Linked DNA regions of Homo sapiens: all the other regions are linked to region 1. Evidence: fine-mapped QTL for protein levels in blood plasma. A gene starts in region 1. Each other region holds a variant in brackets. All regions are shown on one strand. Distances are from middle to middle.

Region 1 (2,745 bases):
CACGCCATTCTCCTGCCTCAGCCTCCCAAATATTTAATAACTTTTTAAAGAAGGGGAAGCTTGACCGAAAGTGACTATAAATGTAGAAGAAACAATAAACTTGGGAAGCCATGATTTTGCAGCTTTACGGTTTAACACTGAATCTACTCATTAACTGATGCTAAAACTGTTGGGCAAATGGTTATTGGGAAAACTTGATGCTTGTGGTCTCAGAGAATGACCTCACGCATGCCTTAATTACTCCACAAGGAGCCACGGACCTTGACCATGGAGGAATTCAGCAGACCCAAAGCTGACCAAGTGGTTCAACTTCACGTCCTCACTCATGGCCACGCTGATGTCCTGCACCTCCTGCTGACTTGTCACCTCCCTTCATCATTGCCCCAAACGTTTAACCAAGGATCCAGACTGTGGGACAGTCTAAGGAAAATAGGAACAGACTCTTCAAAAACGCCACTAAAGAATTAAAACCCACCAGGTGATGTGTGGCTCAGTAAGGTTCTGAGGTTGCACAGAGCATGGGACTGGCTGGCTGGATGGGAGGGCTATGGCTAGCCTGGGGCTTTCCCCAGGTTTCTCCAATGTACATAGATGTCCGTGTTTGTCAGCATACAGGTGTGTGTGGGTGACATGGATATGTCATCGACAGGAAGGCACAACAGCACCCATGCAGAGATGTCCTTAGACTCAGCAATGACTGCCGGGTGCGGTGGCTCACGTGTGTAATCCCAGCCCTGTGGGAGGATTGACTGATAACTGCACCAGTTCCCCCTTCCACAGGCTACTGGGCAGCTGAGCCCTAGCCAGGAGTCCGCAGAGACAGGCAGGCACATGGAGAGAGGAGTGCCAAGGCCCGGCTGAGCCATGGAGGTGGGGGGCGGGGCGGAACACGTGCGAGTGCTGTCCATGAGTGGCCCAGGTGCTGGGAGCTAAGCACATTCGACGGCTGCGAGTCAGGAGGGCAGCTCCTTCTGGAAGCCTGGAGCTGGTGAGGCCAGGTGCTTTCCCTGCTGCGGTGGCTGGCGATGGGAGTGTTTCCTGAGGCTGCCACCAAGCCCCTCCTCAGCATGGGTTGGTGCGGGAAGTCCTTGAGTGCCTGTGGGTCGGCAGGAGCTCCGGTGAGACTCAAGTTCGCTCACCCCACGGTTCTGAAACCGGTCTCCCGCCTTTCCTACCCTCAGGTTTAGGGACCGTCGCGGCAGCCCTAGGGCTGCCAGATTCTGCACTCCCATTTTAGGATGAAAGAAATCAGGTCTAGACTGAGGGCCACGAGTCCCAACACCCAGGGAGGATCCGTACAGGGGCGGGGGGACTGCCCCAAACCATAAGGTCAGGAGGTGGACGCTGACCACAGGGACAGGTGGGCAGGGAAGAGGCTCAGCTGCTGGAGTGGAGGAAGCCGGGAGGGTCGGGGGAGAGCAGGGCACCGAGCTGGGGACGTGTCAGGGACGAAGCGAGGGTGGGCGAGCGCGGACCGCTGGGACCCCGGGGCTCAGTGCCGCTCACCGGGGGTGACCGCGCGCCCAGCCCCGGCCCAGCCTGGCCCCGGCGAGCCCATCCAAGCCGCGCTTCCCGGAGGCAGAGGACGACCGCGCTTTCCGGGTCTGGCGCGGGCTTTGGCGGCCCAAGGGCGGGGCCGGGGCGCCGTGGGTGGGGAAAGGGCGGGGCCTGGCAGGACCCGGAAGTGCGCTGCGGCCCCGCCCCCTGGCCGCGTGGCTGCGCGTCCTGGCTGTTGCCGATAAAGTTGTTTGACGCCGGCCCGGCGGCGGGTCACGTGAGCGGAAAATGGCGGCCCCGGCAGGCGGCGGAGGCTCCGCGGTGTCGGTGCTGGCCCCGAACGGCCGGCGCCACACGGTGAAGGTGACGCCGAGCACCGTGCTGCTTCAGGTGCGGCCGCCCGCCCGGGGCGGACGGGTAGGCGGGCGGGGGGCGCTGCGCCGAGGCCCCGCCCATTGCGGTCGGCGTCCCGGTGTTCGGGGGCGGGGCCTCGGCGGCCAATGAGCGGCCTCCTGAGCGGCGGCCCCGCCCCCTGCTCGCCGTCACCTGCGCTTCCGCTGGGGTCCCGGGGGTCCCGGGGGTCCCGAGTGGGGGCGGGGCGGTGGCGAGCCTTCCCAGGGGTGAGGTAGAACGGCGCCGCGTGTCACCCGCATCGAGTACTCGGCGCCCGGCCGAGCCCAGCTCGCGAGGGCGCCGGGAAGAGGGAGGAGTGGAGCCCTAGACCCGCGTTCCCATTCCGGGGCGTCCCCCGGAGCGGGAGCCCGGGTTGCGCGGTGGCAGATGTCCCGGCCGTGGGGCCTGGAAGCGATTTTTGCCGAGTCACTCACTGCACTTTTACTTGGGCACCTTGTGACCGCGAATCAATTAAATGTAAAAGTATTGGCTGGGCGCGGTGGCTCACGCCTGTAAATCCCAGCACTGTGGGATGCCGAGGCGGGTGGATCACGAGGTCAAGAGATCAAGACCATCCTGGCTAAAACGGTGAAACCCCGTCTGTACTAAAAAAATACAAAAAAATTTAGCCGGGCGTGGTGGCGGGCGCCTGTAGTCCCAGCTACTCGGGAGGCTGAGGCAGGAGAATGGCGTGAACCTGGGAGGCAGAGCTTGCAGTGAGCCGAGATCGCGCTACTGCACTCCAGCCTGGGAGACAGAGCGAGACTCCATATCAAAAAAAAAAAAAAAAAGTATTTATTGAGCCTCTGCTGCGTGGGGGACCGTGAGGATCCGAAGGTGCACACGACTCGGAGT
Region 2 (2,745 bases), 19 kb after region 1:
CCCTGTTTGTTTTTTCAGCTTCTCTCAAAGCCCAAGAGTCACAAAAGTGGTTTCATTTAATAAATATTTGCTTTGCTCGGTGTTTTGATCATTTTCAAAACCGAGTGTGGCGTGGCGCAAGCAAAGCCCGCCGTGGCGGGACCCTCCTAGCGCTCGTCCCTGGCCTCACAGGGGCCTTTTGTTTCCACGCTGGCTGAGTGCCCTTTGCTGGGGTGGGGGGGCACTGGCCCGGAGGGGCCCTGGGGGGCCAGGACATTCCCCGCATTTATCCCCATTTGGAAGCTCCCTGGCTGGGGCTGTGACGGGGAGGTTCAGGTCTACGTCCTCCCTTGAGGGGATGAGCCACGGGGCTCAGGACCCAGGCCCAGCACTGTCCTGAGGCTGTGGCCCTCAGGGACCCTTACACCCTTTGGCTTTTGTGCTGGGCCATTGACTGTGCCCTCGCTAGAGGCAGCTTCTCCACCCCTTCCTCACAGGTCAGAGTTAGCGTATGGGACGTGGCCAGCCAGGCCCGATCCCTGCCCACCCCGAGCTGAGCACCAGGAATGGCCACCCCCGTGGGTGACAGCACGTTCCTGCCTCTCTCGCTCCGGGCAGTGGGTCCTGGCACCAGGGCTTCCTCCTTGCAGCCCAGCTCTGCCAGCCCAGGCCTCAGTGAGCTTGGGTCCCAGCTGCGGAGACCAGGCTGGGGGAGACACGGTCAGGCATGGGCAGCAGGTCCTGCCCCGGCTGCAGACCAGACTCAAGCTGGGCCTTGTGGAGGGTGTGGACCGGCAGGGGCCAGATGTGGGGGGTGGGTAGGATGGAGGCCAGAGAGGGCACGTGGCCTGTGGTCCTGGTGGTGCCGGTGCCCGGAGGGCTTCCCTGGGCTCTGGGGTCCCGGTGCAAGGCGCACCTGTCCTGGCTGCTCCTCCTGCAGGTGACGGGTGAAGCTGCCCTGCGGGGCACGACGCTGCAGTCGCTGGGCCTGACCGGGGGCAGCGCCACCATCAGGTAAGGGCAGTGCTGCTGGGGCCGAGGAGTCTATTTAGCTAAAAAAAAAAGTGGTCTCAAAGGAAAGGAGAAAGGACACGTGGCAAGTGGGGAGTAGGTGTACCCAGGCCCTCATCATGGAGAGCGCCTGGTGGCCTCTGCCTGCCTGTGGGCGTGGGGGCTGGGCTGCCCCGACCTCATCTCTGTGTCCCCCAGAGGGGCGGTGGATCTTGGGAGGGCGCATGGGGCAGGAGAGGGTGAACCGGGGGCGGGAGAGGGTGAGCCGGGGGCGGGAGAGGGTGAGCCTGGGCCGGGAGAGGGTGAGCCGGGGGTAGGCACCACAAGGTGCTTCCCTTGTCCTCTGGCCCCACTCAGGTTTGTCATGAAGTGCTACGACCCCGTGGGCAAGACCCCAGGAAGCCTGGGCTCGTCAGCGTCGGCTGGCCAGGCAGCCGCCAGCGCTCCACTTCCCTTGGAATCTGGGGAGCTCAGCCGCGGCGACTTGAGCCGTCCGGAGGACGCGGACACCTCAGGGCCCTGCTGCGAGCACACTCAGGAGAAGCAGAGCACAAGGGCACCCGCAGCTGCCCCCTTTGTTCCTTTCTCGGGTGGGGGACAGAGAC[T/A]GGGGGGCCCTCCTGGGCCCACGAGGCCTCTGACATCATCTTCAGCTAAGTTGCCGAAGTCCCTCTCCAGCCCTGGAGGCCCCTCCAAGCCAAAGAAGTCCAAGTCGGGCCAGGATCCCCAGCAGGAGCAGGAGCAGGAGCGGGAGCGGGATCCCCAGCAGGAGCAGGAGCGGGAGCGGGTAAAAGGGGCTCTAGGCCTTGGGACTTGGGGGTGTCCTTTCTCCTGATGTGTAGCCCTGCGTGGCTTTAGCTGGTCAGCCTGGTGGCGTGGCCGTGATGCGGGCAGAGGAACCCAAACGCGCAGAGGAACCCAAACGCGGGGCTCTGGACAGGAGCCTTCTGACTTCGCCCAGGAAGGAATTTAGGGGTAAGCAGGTGGTAGAGAAAGTAGCTTTACTGAGACGGTGGCTGTGTCTGCTCCGGGATGAGGCCGTGTCCGCTCCGGGATGAGGCCGTGTGGGCTCCGGGATGAGGCCGTGTTGGCTCCATGACAAGGCGGCAACTGTGTCAGCTCCGTGTTGGCTCCGTGATGTGTGGCACAGAGCAGGGCCGCCCTGGGGTGGTGCATGGAGGGCAGCAGCTCAGGGCATGGCCGTGGTCACATTTACATCCACTCAACTACATGCACGTTAAGGGGTGGGGCATTCAGAAATCTCTAGAAAAGGGGTGGTAACTTCCGGGTTATGGCCAGGGAAGGGGGAGCTGGTGAACGCATCAGCCAGTCTTCAATCTGGTCTGGAATCAAGCCCCACCTCCTACCTGAGCAGGGTCACTGGGCTTGTTCTTAGCTTCTCAGGCAAATGATTTTTTTTTTTCTGGGTTTTTTTTTTTTTTTTTTTGAGACAGAGTCTCACTGTGTCCCTAGGTGGGCGTACAGTGGCGCGATCTCGGCTCACTGCAGCCTCTGCCACCCAAGTTCAAGTGATTACTCCTGCCTCAGCCTCCCGAGTAGCTGGGACTACAAGCGCGCACCACCAAGCCCAGCTAATTTTTTTGTATTTTTAGTAGAGACAGGGTTTTACCATGTTGTCCAGGATGGTCTCAATCTCTTGACCTTGTGATCCACCCACCTCGGCCTCCCAAAGTGCTGGGATTACAGGCGTGAGCCACCGCGCCCAGCTCTTTTTTCTGGTTTTAAACCACCTTTACT
Region 3 (2,745 bases), 120 kb after region 1:
GCACCTCTGGGCCACCGCGCTCACCACCCAGCACAGCGTAGCCACGGAAGGGCATGGCGGTGGCGGGGACAGCCGCGATGTCGTTCAGCATGCTCAGGAAAGCCAGGTCCTGGCTGTGCCGGAGGCCCTGCTCCAGCAGCTTCTGCACGGCCTCAGGGGTGCGTCCGCTGGCCCGCAGCAGACGGGGCAGGGTGGCATGTGGGGCGGGTGCGGGGGGCGGCTGCGTGTTGGGCCTCAGGATGATGTGCACGTTGGAGCCCCCGAAGCCAAAGGAGTTGATGCCCACGTTGCCGCCACGGACGGGCAGGGGCTGGTCCACCACCTGCAGCCGCCCATCCAACAGCGCTGGGATCTCAGGGTTGGGGCTATGGAAGTGCAGGTTGGGGGCCCAGAGCCCGTGCTCCAGGGACAGCAGCACCTGCGGGGGTACGTGGTGGATGGGCAGCCGCCCCACTCCCTCTACCACTGCCTGAGCTGGGGGCAGGCACCTCCCCGAGACTCTCATGTGGGGCCAGGGTTCCAGGGCCCTCTCCGATGCACTTCCTGTCCCCAACCTAATTCTGCCATGGCACAGGGGTCCGAGGACTGAGCCGCCATGGCCCTGCCCTCAGCTTGGTCCAAGACCTCCCCTTCCGGCCTTGCTGCCTCCCAGCCTGATGTGGACCCACCAAAGCCTGGCTGTGGCCTGAACACTAAGGCCCCCTTGGCCCAGATGTTGCATCTCAGAGGCTGCAGAAGTTGGGGGGCAGAGGGCGTGAGTGATCATGGGTGTTGGGGCTCCTGTGCCTGGTCTCTCTAAAGGTCCCCAGGCCTCTGCTAGTGGGTCAGGAAGCTGTAGGGACGGGTGGGCGACACGGGAGACCCTGATGGTGCCGTGGACCCCCCCAGGCCTGCTCCTGCCTCGCTCTTCCCACCCAAGCGGCTCCTCCAGCTCGGCTCCGTGTCCGGCAGACGCTCTGCAGGGCATCAGGCCTCCAGGGAAGGCCCAGCGAGCCTGGCTACGAGCTCTCCCTGCTGTCAGCCTCAGTGCCTCTGCTCAGACCTGCAGCATAGCCCGGGGGACAGAGGCTCCTGGTGGGGAAGCCCCCGCCTCCACTTGGCAAAGAGAAAGCAGCAGTGCCCAGCCATGGCGCAACCCAGTCCCAGGGAGCAGGAGCCTGAGGGACCCCCAAGCCCAGCCCCACCTACCTTGGCCAGGGCTGCCAGCCCCGAGGCTGGCTCCGGGTGCCCCATGTTGGACTTGGTGGAGCCGATGAGCAGCGGCTCCTGGCGGGTGG[C/T]GCACAGGGCTCGGGTGATGCCATTCAGCTCCTGGGGGTCGCCCACCTGTGGGAAACATGGGGGGTGAGGGGCTCTGGCCAGGTCACCTCTCCAGGCATGGGCGTAGGTTAGGCTCATGGGGTGGTGAGTGGGGCGGGGGGGGGGGGCATCACCTTGGTGCCTGTGCCGTGGGCTTCGATGTATTCAAATGACTCAGGGGCCACTCCGGCCGACTGGTACAACGAGCGGATGAGCTGCTCCTGGATATCCCCTGAGGGGAAGGTCACGCCTGCGGAGGGCTCGGCTCAGTGCTGCAGCCCCAGCCCCGGCTCCCACCTGCCCCCCAGCACCCCGGAACCCCGGCAGAGCCCACCTTGCTCCTTGAAGCCATCTGTATTGGTGCCGGCGTTCAGGATGGTGGCGTACACCCGCCGGGCCAGGGACTTCTTGGTCAGCAGGACGGCCACCACACCCTCCGAGCGGCAGTACCCATTCCCTGGGTAGAGCAGCACCTCAGGCCCGGGGCTCAGCCCCACGCCGGCCCCCACCCCACCAGGAGGAGCTCTGGGGTGTGGGGTGGGTGCTTGGGTGGGGGATCCCCGGAGCTGGCAGGATCCTGCTCAGCGTGGGGACTGTGCGGGGGGCCGTCCTGTGCCACTGTCCCGCCTGCCCTGGCCGCGCAGCCGCACACTCACCCGCTGTGTCGAAGGCCTTGCAGGTGCCCTCGGGGCTGAGCATCCCCAGCCTCAAGAACTGCACGGAGGTGTTGGGCTTCAGCAGGACATTGATGCCCCCCACGATGGCGGCAGGGCACTGCCCGCTGTGGATGGCCTGGTAGGCGTTCTGCAGGGCCATCAGGCTGGAGGAGCAGGCTGTGTCCAGTGCGATGCTGGGCCCTGCAAGGAAGGGTGCTGCGGCTCAGGTGGGGCTGTGAGCACACGAGACCCCTGAGCACACCTCCTGCCACCAGGCTGGACACACACTGCACGGAGTGAGCCCACGCCACGTGGTTTCTGCTCAGCATGTGGGGACCTGAAGGCCACCCACCTCCGCAGGAGGCTGGGCAGGACCCACCTCTGAAGTCGAAGAAGAAGGAGAGCCGGTTGGCCATCATCGCTCGCTGGCAGCCCACCATGCTGTAGCCCACGAGTGTCTCGGGGTCTCGGCTCAGGGCCTCCGAGGTCTCAGAGCCGCTCACGCCCACCCAGACGCCAGTGTGTGTTCCTCGGAGTGAATCTGGGTTGATGCCTGCCACAAACAGTGGTCAAGGTGCCACGGCCGGGCCCCACAGCGCAGCCAGCCCACCCACCCACCCGGCTCTGGGGCGAAGGTCCCATCTTGGCCTCACTGGCTTGGGGTGAGGGGGGGTCCATCCCAGTGGGACCCTGGAAGGGGCCTAAGGAGGGTGAGGTGTCCTGCAGAGGGGCCAGAACAGAGCCTGTGGCCAGCAGCCAGCCCAGGTGAGGCCTGGAACAGGAACCAGGTCAC

Direction of the effects. Positions count from the first base shown, and alleles are read on the strand shown. Strength reflects both the effect of a copy and how common the allele is. Not every link is listed here.
As copies of T replace C in region 3, the plasma level of the protein whose gene starts at base 1,768 in region 1 goes down (moderate association).

Evidence for each region. PIP is the posterior inclusion probability: the model's chance that the variant is causal. Protein levels are from antibody-based Olink assays in UK Biobank. Linkage for the fine-mapping came from a reference panel and not from the study's own genotypes, which makes the PIPs less certain.
Region 2: its variant is fine-mapped to the plasma level of the ASPSCR1 protein (UK Biobank, PIP above 0.99). The variant lies in the coding sequence of ASPSCR1. If it changes the protein, the assay may bind it differently, which can mimic a change of level.
Region 3: its variant is fine-mapped to the plasma level of the ASPSCR1 protein (UK Biobank, PIP above 0.99).

Annotation. Positions count from the first base shown.
Region 1 is chr17:81,975,862-81,978,606 of GRCh38, forward strand. It overlaps ASPSCR1 (ASPSCR1 tether for SLC2A4, UBX domain containing), which reads left to right and starts at 1,768. Exons shown (of 16, transcript NM_024083.4): 1 at 1,768-1,887. The coding sequence starts at 1,786. It overlaps LOC124904087 (a long non-coding RNA gene), which reads left to right. Exons shown (of 2, transcript XR_007065951.1): 2 at 250-474. It overlaps LOC105371939 (a long non-coding RNA gene), which reads right to left and starts at 1,624. Exons shown (of 2, transcript XR_933953.4): 1 at 1,507-1,624; 2 at 107-1,096. RefSeq lists enhancers at 380-1,153, 1,154-1,925 and a silencer at 1,404-2,263.
Region 2 is chr17:81,995,073-81,997,817 of GRCh38, forward strand. It overlaps ASPSCR1 (ASPSCR1 tether for SLC2A4, UBX domain containing), which reads left to right. Exons shown (of 16, transcript NM_024083.4): 6 at 920-993; 7 at 1,348-1,774. Among named protein-coding and RNA genes, the nearest start is that of ASPSCR1, 19 kb to the left of the region's middle. The variant T/A (reference allele first, on the strand shown) is at 1,596.
Region 3 is chr17:82,091,267-82,094,011 of GRCh38, forward strand. FASN (fatty acid synthase) reads right to left here. Exons shown (of 43, transcript NM_004104.5): 4 at 2,332-2,505; 5 at 1,953-2,153; 6 at 1,631-1,753; 7 at 1,431-1,546; 8 at 1,189-1,323; 9 at 1-418. Among named protein-coding and RNA genes, the nearest start is that of SNORD134, 2.5 kb to the left of the region's middle. The variant C/T (reference allele first, on the strand shown) is at 1,278.